2 linked regions of the Homo sapiens genome follow. The protein of the gene in region 1 binds, or shares a complex with, the protein of each later gene. Each region holds a gene or a part of one and is shown on either strand. Other genes may lie near its edges.

Region 1 (7,838 bases):
AGTTTCTGGAGATACCATTTTGAAAATCACAGTGAATTCCAAAAGAGACATCAGTAGAGCATCCAGTGGCTAAAAGTGGGCTCTCCCAAGCCAGATAGCATGAGTTCAAATTCCAGTACCCCCACTCACTGGCTCTGTGACCCTAGACAAGTTACCTAACCTTTTGGTGACTCAGTTTCCTCATCTATAAAATGGAAATAATCATAGTGCTATCATGAAATATAACTATATCAGATCACATAGAGTAATAAAACAGTATTTGGCACATAGTAAGCATTTAATAATTGCTAGCCATCTTTATGTTTACCAGTGTTGCTTTGACAGCTAGGCTGAGTAGCAGGTAGCATGCACCATCAAACCACATTTATGGTGGAAGCTTCTTTGATAGAACAATGAAAAACTTGATCTCATTCAATTCTCTCCCTGACAGGGAATGCCTGGGACCCTGAGTGGGCGTCAATAAACACTGACTGACTGATCGACACTGATTGACTGATTTAGGCTGTCAGTGAAAGTGGAAAGCCTGGATTACTCATCCAGATGTTAGGAACTATTTTTCCCAAAAGACAAATAGCACTTCCAGTCTTTAAAAGACTATCGCTGAGGCTTGTTAAAGTCTACCAACTACAAAATGATAATTCCATTTACTTTCTCTAATTAACTATAACAACGAAAAGAAGAAAACTCAGTAAGAAAGAATTCCTAGAGTGACACCTTCCTAGAAGAAGGTTTAACCCAAGGCAGTCTGCTGTACTAGAACTTTTTTTTTTTTTTGAGACTTTAGAGTCAACATTATAATTCATTTCAAGACATGTTGGAATGAGTTTTAGATTTTTTTCCCAAAACAATAATTAAACCAGCCAGGTCCATACTAAATCTCCGGTTTACTCCCAGGAAAACAAAACAATGACTTGGCAAAGCTGTGACCTAAACTTTGCTCCAGCTCTGCACTTACAAAAGTCCATTCATCCCCGCCTTAGGCACCCATCTGCAAAGTGGAGATGATGATGCCTAACACTAACTCGATACAGATGTAAATGAGAATGTGCTCAGAATTTTGAGCAACTTGGAAAAAATAAGCGATGTATTAATTGAAGATGATTTGGAATGCTCAGACATCAACTTTTAGGGACAAATAAACAATCTCCACCCTCCAAATGCTAGGCTCTGTGAGCCCACTCCACCTAGATGAGCCTTCTCTGGGCCATTCAGCCCCCTGGAATCCCAGAGACAGAAGAGGAGTGAGGTACACAAACTGTGGCAAGAAGGGCAAACAGGTTTCACCCACATCACTAGTGCGATCTGCATATGTGACTCCAAGCAGGCCTTCAGGGTAGAGTCAGAGGTTAAGGAAAGAAAAATAGGTTAGAAAATAAATGAGGCCTGTTTATTTCTCCTGCTTTTTTAAAAAGAAAAACATGGCATTCTAGCAGAAATCCTACTTGATCTAAAGTGAGCTTCACATTTCTTTCTACTCTTTTTTTTTTTTTTTTTTTTTTGAGACCGAGTCTTGCTGTGTCGCCCAGGCTGGAGTGCAGTGGCGCGATCTTGGCTCACTGCAACCTCCCCCTGCCGGGTTCAAGCAATTCTCCTGCCTCAGCCTCCCGAGTAGCTGGGATTACAGGCGTGTACCACCACGCCCGGCTAATTTTTTGTATTTTTAGTAGAAATAGGGTTTCACCATGTTGGCCAGGCTGGTCTCGAAATCCTGACCTCAAATAATCCACCCGTCTCGGCCTCCCAAAGTGTTGGGATTACAGGCTTGAGCCACCGCGCCCGGCCACATTTTTACTCTTATATTCTTAGTTGAAAACAACAGAGAAGTCCAAGTGCCACTCCATCTCTGAAGCACAGATAGCCTTTCTGCTGAAGGCAATGGTCTGGGAGCACCAGTCTCAAATCAGATCAATTTCATACCCACCTAGAAGCTACGAAAGTGAAGACCCATAACCCTTAATTTACTTTTTTTCCATTTATAAAACTAAAGACTACAACAGGAAAGAAAAATAAAATAAAACAGATGTAATTAGAGAAGGAGAGTAGGTAGAAAGAACGCAAAAGTGAAGCCCTCCTGGCCCTGAGCTTCACTTAAGGAAACGAACATGACACCCCAGTACTCTGGGGGACTCCTTGGAAACGCCTTCTTAAATGGGCTCCCCTCCCCTGAAAAGAGAGCGAATTCCTAAGACCTCTTCGTGGTCTGTAGATAAGATGGGGGTGGGGGAGATGGAAAGATCACTTGAAATTCTGTATCCATAAATGGTAGAGTGGTGCTCCTTGTGTACATGATGCTTAATGGAAATCGCATGTTTTCACAAACACGGGTCGATCTTTTTAACACACAGTCCCAATTAACGGTGGAAATTCCACAACGTGGGATCCCAGGGATGTTAAGGCCTGGCGAGTTGGCTTTCTCAAACTTTTTCGGGGGAGCCCGCACTGTGGGGCCCCGGACGCCGCCGTCACCATCCGGCGTGGCTCTACCGGGGCTGGTGCCGGGGCTGGGGGCCACGCTCCGCCGGCGGCGCCTAGGGGCCATCGCGAGAAAGAGAAAGAGACAGAGAGAGAGAAAAAGAGAGAGACAAGAGAAGAGAAAAGAGACAGACACAGAGAGAAAGAAAGAGAGACAGAATATAAGAGAACTGAAGAGAAGAGAAGAGAAGAGGGAAGAAAGAAAAAAAAGACAAGACCCGGGGAGGGCGCAGGCGGGAGCGCGCGGGCGGCGAGGCCTAGGAAGGGCCCAGCAGCAGCGGGAGGGCGCGCGGCTACTCAGCCCAACCCGTGCGGCCCGGGCTTACCTTCCAGATAACAGCTGGAGGACGAGGACAGCCCCTTCTTGGATTTGCAGCCCACCAGCTTCAGGCAGATCTCCAACATTTTCCCGCGCCAGCACGTCGGGGGCCGGAACCCCTCTCCCAGCTCGGTCCGCGGGCCCGGCTCAGGCCCGGCTCGGCCCGCGCGCCCCCCCGGCGCCCCCGGCCCCGCCAGCCGCCCTCACCGCCGCCCCGCGCGCCCGCGCCCGCCCATGGCCGCGGCCGCGTCTCCGCCTGGCCGGGACGCGCCTGTTAACAAAGGGCCCGGAGAGGGCGCCCGCCAGGCCCGCCCCCGCCCCGCCGCCGCCTGCGCCTTAACCCCCTCCTGGCCGCGCCCGTCCGCACCCAGGGGCCCCTGGCGTTCCCGAGGCCGAGCCCGGCCCAAAGCCACCGCCGCTTTCCAAAGCCAACCCGGGCCAATGGCGATCCTCGCAGGGGGAAGGCCGCGCGCGGCCCGCGGAGGTCTTTCTCCGCCTGGAAGCGCCGTCCCAGCCCCGGCGGGGAGGGTGCAGGCCTGCTCCACTCCACTTTAGAAGCCGCGCGCAACTCCACCGCGGCCTGGGGCGTCTCCAACCTGCACCGCTTTTGGCGAGTTTCCCAGTACGCGGTGCCAGGCAAACCCTCTGACCCGAGAACGCTGGTGAAAATGCATATTCCTCTGCAGTTACCAATACTAACTGGTCTCATTTCTACTCAACGCGCGTCCTGTGATTAAGGCTGAGGCAGTGGGTGTCTGGGGAGGAAGTCAGAGCTGGCACCCACAGGACAACCACACGTGCGCACGACACCCCGGTGAGGCCGCACATCCAGACCAGGATATGAGGTCAGGCTGCGAACAGACGGGTGTGAGTTCAGAGTGAGAGGACTTAGTCCCTACAATGAGAATTTTCGGAGGCACGGTCTGGGCCTCTTCTCTGATTCATTTTCTTTAACAGAGAACTTTTCCTCTTCCTTTGGCCGAGTGCCACGGGGTGAGGGTGGGGGGACCATTGTTTAAAATCCATTTCATTCAATTATTTTAAACTCTTGTTTGGACTGACCACAGACAATGTTATAAAGCAGCAACAATCACAGTCGTGTTACTGGCGCACACCCAGAAATCTAGGTCAGAGGGAAACAATAAGGAACTCAATGGCACCAAATAATTCAATAAAATCAGGTAAGTTCCCCTCATGACAGGAAAAGGAATTTATTTCATTTATTTCTTTCATAAATGGTGTTAATCACAAAACTGTAAAGGGGGAAGTTTAGTCCACATCTTCTAGCCATGAAGAGTAAGAGCTGACGTGTATTGTGCTCTTCCTATGTGCCATGTTACCTTCATTAACTGTATTGCATCTGCGTAATGATTCTGTGAGGAAACAGATTATCCCAATTCTTCAGGTTTAAAAACAAACAAACCCCACAGATGCTCAGAGAAGTCAGACACCTTGCCCACAGCTGGAAACAGGCGGAGATGGACTCAACCCAGGTCTGCCTGGCTCCAAGGATCAGGCTCCCGACCAGTGGATGATGCTGACCCTTCACATCAAGAATAAATTCCAAGTGGATTAAAGCATTGGATATCTTTGGTCAAATAACTAGCATTGTCATTATATGTTTCAGAGAAAGCCTTGGTTATGAGACCCTGGCTACTTTCTAGCCTATCCTGTAATGACAAAAACCCGGGTATCTTCAGTACCTCAGGAATGGCTAAGTAACAAGATCTTCACTTGGCTCTGCCAAAAACAGCACATAAAAACTCCAGTTGGACAGGATGTAACCAGTGTATATCACAGGGGTTCTCGGCCAGGATGTCATTAACTTTCCACATGTGTCCTGCCAAATTCTGATCAACATACAACATGTATTTTTACTGCCATTGAATGGACCTACTGCTAGAGTCGTGGTACCAGATCAGGCCTCATGAGCATCCAAGAGGGCACCATCAGGGAAGTTTGCAGCTCCCATCATCTGGAGATGCAGGACTACAGGGCCCCCAGGGGATGGGTGCAGTGACTCTGGATGCTTTCTAGGATCTGGGAAGCGCTGTCATTCTGCTGGACAGCCTGCGTGTGGTGACTGCTAACATGTTTAGTGTTGTCTTGAATCTGTCAACCTCTACACGTAATGCCAAAAATAACACTCAAAAGGGTGCCACCAGTACCAACTAGTGAAAAAATACAGTATCTGTCTGTTTTGTTGCCCTTTTGGAAAGTTCAGGGGCCTTGGATCAGACTATAATAAAGTCTGTCATTATATAGCATTTCATATTAAAGGGCCATATTCAAATTGGCGGCTTAATGCCAAGAATTACACATTATTAGGCATTTTGGAAATTCTAGCCATATCCTTGAATACCGTCTGTTAATATAGGCCCAGATATTTGCTTGCCTTGTGCTGTTCTTTATATTGGTATATGTTTATTTTTTTAAGCTAATTATTATTACTAATATTCTGCTCTTGAGTCTAAAATGATCTTATCCTCTTAAATCCTCTTAAAATGAATAATGCTTATAAACTGTACCCAAATCTTTTTAATTTTAGTTATAAAACCATACATCAACAGATCTAACAAAATACTGAATTAGTGGCAATGGATACTGAAAAAACTGCCAAACTACACTTCTGTATCAAACCTGGCCTATACTTTCCATATCCAGCTTTTGACGCTTTTGAAAGATACGAAGAGCATTCTGTTACAAGCAAATAAAGGAGAGCTTCAATCTTCTTACCAGAAGAACACCCCAAGAAGGATTCCTTCTAATCAGCCTAAGACCCAAAAGCTATTAGCTAAAAAGAAAGGGAAAAGGAAAGAAATTAAAGACTGTGAACTAACTTGTTTGCTATGTTGCATTAGTTTGGGAAGAAATACATTTTTAATGTGCATGTAATATGTGCCAGGCACTCTTAAGCCTCACAGTAACCTAATGATTTTGTATAGTTTAATTCCATTTCACAAGTAAGAAAACTGACTGGAGGGAGAGGGGGAAGTATTCTGTCCAAGTTCACACAGCCAGGAGGTAGGAAGGTAGGAAAGTCTTGAACTTTGTAAAATGGCAGAAAATTTCCAATTTAAGTGAAAGGTGGATAATATGAGTAAGATCAGAAGATGAAATAAGTAACATTAACTGTTGGGAAAACATGTCTTAGGAGAAAATAATTCAGGGAACTAGAGCTATTTAAGATTTTTTTTTTTTTTGAGATGGTGAAACCCCATCTCTACTAAAAGTACAAAAAAATTAGCTGGGCGTGGTAGCGGGCATCTGTAATCCCAGCTACTCGGGAGGCTGAGGCAGAGAATTGCTTGAACCTGGGAGGTGGAGGATGCAGTGAGCAGTGATCGCACCACCACACTCCAGCCTGGGCAACAGAGCGAGACTCCATCTCAAAAAAAAAAAAAATATTTAGAAGGAAAGGATAAACTCCCCAACATTAAAGCATGGGATCTGAACAATGTTTCTAAAAGCATAATCCATGGACAATCTATTTTGAATAATGTGGGGCTTGCTTAAAATGCGGAGTCTTGGTTTCTAGTCTAGAATCAGAATATGTGTAATGGGCTGGATCTGAAGCTCCCAGATGATCTGTATGCATATGTAAGATGGAAATCCACTGTTTGGGGGCCAGACACAGTAGCTCACGCCTGTAATCCCAGCACTTTGGGAGGCTAAGGTGGGCGATCACCTGAGGTCAGGAGTTAAAGACCAGCCTGGCCAACATGGGGAAATCCTGTCTCTACTAAAAATACAAAAATTAGCCAGGCATGGTGGTACACACCTGTAATCCCAGCTACTCGAGAGGCTGAGGCAGGAGAATCGCTTGAACCTGGGAGGTGGAGGTTGCAGTGTGCCAAGATTGCACCACTGCACTCCAGCCTGGGCAGCAGAGCAAGACTACATTTCAAAAAAAGAAAAAAAGAAAAGAAATCCACTGTTTTGGAAGAGGGAAGAGTTGCTTATTTTCACTGGGAATAGGACGAACAGGAATGGATATTTCTAAAATTTAATTCATTTGAAAGCAATTTCTGAATTTAAGATAGGCATAGTTCTAGAACAAGTTACCAAAAGAGGACTCTTCTTGGATGATTAGAGGAGAGAGACTGAATTTTTTTTTTAATTTGGAATTTAGTCCTATTAAGAAAAAGTTGGGCAGGCACCCACCATAGAAGTGTGTCAAGGGAAGGAGGCAGGATTCAGGATGTGGATGCTCCATCTCTCAGCAGCAAGACTGGGTGTGAGTGCAGGTGGAACAGAGACAGATGAACCTGACAGGAGGCCTGGCTTGGGACCCCAGGACAAGGTGACCCCAGGTCTGGCTGACCCCTTCACTGTTTCCAGCATAGCTAGTAGCTTTAGGGGGGGAACAGCAAAGATCTTGAGGTATGTGCACAGTATTTCACATGCAAATGCCAACAAAGCCCACTTTCTCTGATTCAGCAAACATTGTCCAGCAAGAGCCTGCCAGGTACTCTAGCTCTGTGGGTCCAGTGTATGTCCAACTAAAGGATAACATAGCTTAAAACATCACTTCTGTCATACCAGTTTTTGCCACTGTATAGGGACACATGCATCCCTTTAAGTCTCACATTTTTTCAATCGGGTAGCACTACCTGCTGGTCACGAGTTATGTGTCACAAAGGCTAGCGCTGAGTCTCAGATCTGCCACTCACTGTGGGGCCATGGGCAACGACTTCACCTCTCAGAGCCTCAATTTTCTCATCTGAAAAATGGGAGGTAGTCATAAGAGTAGTTATCTCACAGGGTTATTATGAAGATTAGGAATCATGTAGGGAGAGTGCCCAAAGCACAGAAGGTGCTCGATAAACAGTAGCTATTGTTATTTCCAAAAGAGGACTATTTCTGTATCAGGTCTGTGTTCCTGCCTACATCTCACTGGGACTCAGTCAAGAGCTCAAATTAACAAACATGCTATATGAAAATGATTCCAGAAAGCAGTCTGGAGGTTTTCCAAGGGACCAGGAAATCAATTTATTTTATGAAGAGAAAGAAACACTAGCTGTGAGGTAGGAGTAGCAACTAAGGT
Region 2 (5,040 bases), on another chromosome or scaffold:
CTGTAGTCCCAGCTACTAGGGAGGCTGAGGCAGGAGAATGGCGTGAACCCGGGAGGCAGAGCTTGCAGTGAGCTGAGATAGCGCCACTGCACTCCAGCCTGGGCAACAGATCGAGACTCTGTCTTAAAAAAACAAACAAAAAAAACCTTTATATTTCATTTTGCAACAAGAGACATTTTATAAATAAATGCCAAAACATAAGGTTTTTTTTTGTTTTTAGAGGCAGGATCTGGCTCTGTTGCCCAGGCTGGAGTGCAGTGATGTGATCTCGGCTCACTGCAACCTCTGCCTCCTGGGCTCAAGCAGTCCACCCACCTCAGCCTCCCGAGTAGCTGGTTCTATGAGCAGCCACCACCACACCCAGCTAATTTTTGTATTTTTTGTAGAGACGGTTTCACCATGTTGCTCAGGCTGGTCTCAAAAACTCCTGAGCTGAAGCAATCCATCCACCTGTGTCAGGCTCACCAAGTGCTGGGATTGCAGGCGTCAGCCACTGCGCCCGGCCATGGTTGGTTTTTTTGACCCCTCATTGGGTAATGATCAGGTAACAAGCGGCTTTGAGGGAGCAGCAAGGTCTGTCCGATGGTGGGATTTGGGGGCTGGGCAGGCAGTGGCTTGTGAAGTAGAGCTTACTGAATGAGGTGGGGGTTTTCTGGGAGCTAATTGGACCTGGAGTTTTGGCCTCTACCTGCCCATATGGGAAAAGGCTTGCCTGGGTCAGGAGGTGATAGGAACACTTGATTCTCTAGGACCAAGTGACCTATGCTTGCCATGATCGCTTTCTGCTGTGCAAGCAGTAACAGGCCAGGTCTTGTGCGAGTGGGCTGGGGGATTGTGCTGCTGCCATATGCTAAAGCGGGGAGAAGGCGGCCAGGCACAGTGGCTCACGCCTGTAATCCAAGCACTTTGGGAGGCCAAGGCAGGTGGATCACAAGGTCAGGAGTTCGAGACCAGCCTGGCCAAGATGGTGAAACTCCATCTCTACTAAAAATACAAAAATTAGCTGGGCACGGTGGCAGGCGCCTGTAGTCCCAGCTACTCGGGAGGCTGTGGCAGGAAAATTGCTCGAACCTGGGAGGCAGAGCTTGCAGTGAGCTGAGATCACGCCACTGTCATCCAGCCTGGGTGACAGAGACTCCGTCTCAAAAAAAAAAAAAAAAAAAAACGGAGAAAGCTGCTTCTCCTCGGACAGGGCCTGCGGAGCAGGCAGAAAGCTGAGGGTAGTGAGTACAAAGAAAGGGAATAGTAGCTAACTCACTGAAGTTGGGATTGCTCATGCAGAGACAGCTGAGATTTCCAATAATTATCACTTTCCTTTTTTAATCAAAAAGTATCATTATCTGGAATCCCTTTTACTTTCTGTATTCTCTGTTTTTCCACACTGCTAAAAACACTTTTCCTTCTGCCTGCATTAACCACAAGTAATCAGTCTGGTGGCTGGGGCTGGGGAGGCAGCAAATGGCCATTTCTGTAATATCCCTAGAGCAGTCACATGGGCAGGGTGTGCCTAACCAGAGAATGGAGTTGTTCAGCTTGCATTCCTACCTGGAAATAAAGTGCTCTCCTTATTCTCCTCCTGCAGGTCGGTGAGCTGGTAAAGGTTACGAAGATTAATGTGAGTGGTCAGTGGGAAGGGGAGTGTAATGGCAAACGAGGTCACTTCCCATTCACACATGTCCGTCTGCTGGATCAACAGAATCCCGATGAGGACTTCAGCTGAGTATAGTTCAACAGTTTTGCTGACAGATGGGAACAATCTTTTTTTTTTTTTTCCAACTGCCATCTATACAATTTTCTTACAGATGTCAAAAGCAGTCTAGTTTATATAAGCATTCTGTTACCTGTGATATTTTTTAGACTGAACTGCTCCATTCCTAGTCTTAATTACCATATTCAGGGTACGAACTGGAGGGCTTGTGTGTTAGCTTCTGAATTGGCAATTGGAGGCGGTAGTGGTCGTGCCTGTGTGTATCAGAAGGGATAGGTATCTTGCCTCCTTTCTCTCAGGCAGTGCAAATCACCCTGTGGAAAACCGATGGACAGGAAGGAGTGTTACACACTGCTTACCCTGATTTATTCAGTGGTTTTGTTTTCATTCTGGAACCATACTATCAAATGGCGACAGACTGTTCCGTTCCACCCCCGTGAAGTAATCATGCACCGTGTGAATAGTATCAAGCAGGATTGCTTTCATTGTATGGAGCATGACCAGCGTGTGACTCATTCTGACATTTCAGATCCTAAGAATTCTAAGAACACTACTAGAAGCATTTGTTCCCTCCTAGTCAATGCTTCATACTTTTTCTTGGGATTCTTTTAGCCCTTGACATTCTTGTCCCCCAAACCTGTAAGTAGGTGAATTCCTAAGATAAGTGTGTATTTTCATTCCAGGTGAAAAGCAGGATGTACCGAGCACTTTATTCAGTGCATAGCTTTAAGCCAGTGTTGGATTCACTAAGTGGACAGCCAGTCTCCCAGCTCTCTGCCTTCCCCAAAAGGGTCGTAGTAGGTCACCCTTCTACAGCAGCTAACTAGAGTCCTAACTAATGGGATCCAGCAGGGCCATTTCTCCAGAGGGCCAGTATCCTATTAGGAGACTCTTGGAATTCTTAGGTTCTACTCAAGAGTGGAAGGACCAATCACCTCTGATATTCTGTGGAAGGTTTTGGGGTCAAATTCTGCCCTCTGCATTCTGTGCAACTTGTATAAAAGTCAAGTTAGTATTACATGAATTTGGGGTAGGGTTAGTGCTTTGAAAAAATGTTGAACCGGCTGGGCGCGGTGGCTCACGTCTGTAATCCCAGCACTTTGGGAGGCCGAGGCGGGTGGATCATGAGGTCAGGAGTTCGAGACCAGCCTGGCCAACATAGTGAAACCCCATCTCTGCTAAAGATATAAAAAATTAGCCCGGCGTGGTGGTGCACGCCTGTAATCCCAGCTACTCGGGAGGCTGAGGCAGGAGAATTGCTTCAACCTGGGAGGTGGAGGCTGCAGTGAGCCGAGATCGCACCACTGCGTTCCAGCCTGAGCGACAGGGCAAGACTCAGTCTCAAAAAAAAAAAAAAGGAAAAAAAAAAGAAAAAAAAATGTTGAACCAATTGTGAATTACTTATGTATTATTCATTTCTCATGGGGAGAGTAATGCTGTTGAAGAACATTACATTGTAAACTGCCTTCATTTTTGGCTCTTTGTTTATGTTCAGGTTTAGTTTACAAACCCATTTAAGTATGGAATGATTTATATGGGGTCAGGTGCTCCACAAAATAGACCTATGAGACCAAAAATGACCTAGGCTATTTAGACGACAGCATGAAACTTCCACGTTAGTTCTCAGTCTATAAAGGCACTTACCGGTCTCTGGTGTGGTATGACCAATAGAAACACCTTATAGTTTGCTTTGGACCTCATTTTGGAAAAATAATCTGCCTTTCTAATTGTTCTGCATAGGTTAAAATGATAAATTTACATTCTTTGAACCTATACCAGATTGTGGTGTCCGAGTGACCGGCACACTGTCTGACACACAGTCAGTGTGCACGTATTTGTCTGAGTGAATGAGGAGACCTGAGAAACCGGTGACGTGGCACAGGGAAGCCAGCTGGCCCAGGATTCCGTACATGGCCGCAAGCAGACTAACGCGTTGACGCTAATTTAATGTATTTTACCTCACACTAAGGTCATGCTTGATAAAGACGTTAAACTCAACTTGTAAAATGGTAGCCCAGTGCTATGCACAGAGTGGGTGCTCATTAGTGTTGAATGAACACATTTGTAATACTACATGTAATTCCATCTGACTGCTTTGTTAAATTTTCAGTTAGAACGTAGATACTGTAAAGTCCACACACACATTAAATCTTGTTTTCCTGAAAGTATGGCATCAAAAATACTTGTAGAAAAACCTTGTCACAACTGATTTGAATGTTCCTATTTTCTTTTCCTTTGACTTTGATATTGGCTTGTAATGTCTCTTTTCATCATATGTAATATCAGTGGAACAGGCAGCGCTACTCAAGTCCTAAGGATTCCTCAGTGATCAGTGATCCAGGGCCGTTCATGAACCACTGGGCTGGATTTGACTGTTGAGTGTGGCAGTTAATGCCCCTCAAGAAATCAAAGGATGTCTTATAAGTGTCTTCCAAAAAAAAGCAAATGCTGAAATCCTATTGGCAAAGTAAACTGAAATTGGCTGCTATATTTTATATAATCATTTCTGCAAATCCCATTTTTTGAATACTAATATTTGACATGGTTAATTCTTATTAATTTGTTGGAATTGTTTATTGTTAATAATGCAAATAGATAATTTTTAATTATCCACAAGTAACATTTCACTGTTAATGGTTTGAAATAGGTGATAAGCAAACCAATTTGAAATAAAATATAAACATGTGCCATTGTATTATAACACTATACACTTTCTTGACAGTTAAATTTAAAAAAAAATTTTTTTTGGTAGCATGTATTGTATATGTTTATAGTATATGTAGTAAATAAAAATATGGCCAAATGTTTGGCTTGGTGATCTTTTGCAAAAAAGTAATCTTTGAATATTTTTCACAAAAGAACTAAATCTTTTTTTTTTTTTGAGACAGAGTTTCGCTCTTGTGACCTAAGCTGGGGTGCAGTGATGCGATCTCGGCTCACTGCAACTTCCGCCTCCCACGTTCAAGCAATTCTCCTACCTCTGCCTCCCGAGTAGCTGGGGTTACAGGCATGCACCACCACGCCCAGCTAATTTACTGTATTTTTAGTAGAAATGGGGTTTCACCATGTTAGCCAGGCTGGTCTCAAATTCCTGACCTCGGGTGATCCGCCTGCCTCCGCCTCCTAAAGTGCTGGGATTACAGGCTTCAGCCACCACCGCACCCAGCGAGAGGTAAATCTTTATGCTTAGGGGATAGGAGGTATGTGCCTTCAGCAGCCTGCAGTCATATAATTAGATAAACAATTATACAAGCTCAGTGGGTGCTTATTAAAGATGGGATTAGGCCGGGTGTGGTGGCTCATGCCTGTAATCCCAGCACCTTGGGAGGCAG

What was found. The genes of interacting proteins can lie anywhere in the genome.
Region 2: the proteins of ABL1 (region 1) and CRK are in contact, whole or in part, in an NMR structure (PDB 1JU5), measured with the Homo sapiens proteins. Residues at the interface, in NP_005148.2 of Homo sapiens: Tyr70, Phe72, Asp77, Asn78, Thr79, Asn94, His95, Asn96, Gly97, Glu98, Trp99, Trp110, Pro112, Ser113, Asn114, Tyr115; in NP_058431.2 of Homo sapiens: Pro44, Asp46, Asn63, Gly66, Pro67, Arg68, Pro69, Pro70, Val71, Pro72, Pro73, Ser74, Pro75, Pro80, Gly81, Ser83, Pro84, Ser85.

The regions. Positions count from the first base shown.
Region 1 is NC_000009.12:130,830,486-130,838,323, reverse strand, and holds the start of ABL1 (tyrosine-protein kinase ABL1), read right to left. Parts: upstream 3,071-7,838; 5' UTR 2,878-3,070; coding exon 2,799-2,877; intron 1-2,798. UniProt on the Homo sapiens protein: Non-receptor tyrosine-protein kinase that plays a role in many key processes linked to cell growth and survival such as cytoskeleton remodeling in response to extracellular stimuli, cell motility and adhesion, receptor endocytosis, autophagy, DNA damage response and apoptosis.
Region 2 is NC_000017.11:1,420,193-1,425,232, reverse strand, and holds the end of CRK (adapter molecule crk), read left to right. Parts: intron 1-567; exon of another isoform or gene 568-647; intron 648-1,582; coding exon 1,583-1,720; 3' UTR 1,721-4,540; downstream 4,541-5,040. UniProt on the Homo sapiens protein: Involved in cell branching and adhesion mediated by BCAR1-CRK-RAPGEF1 signaling and activation of RAP1.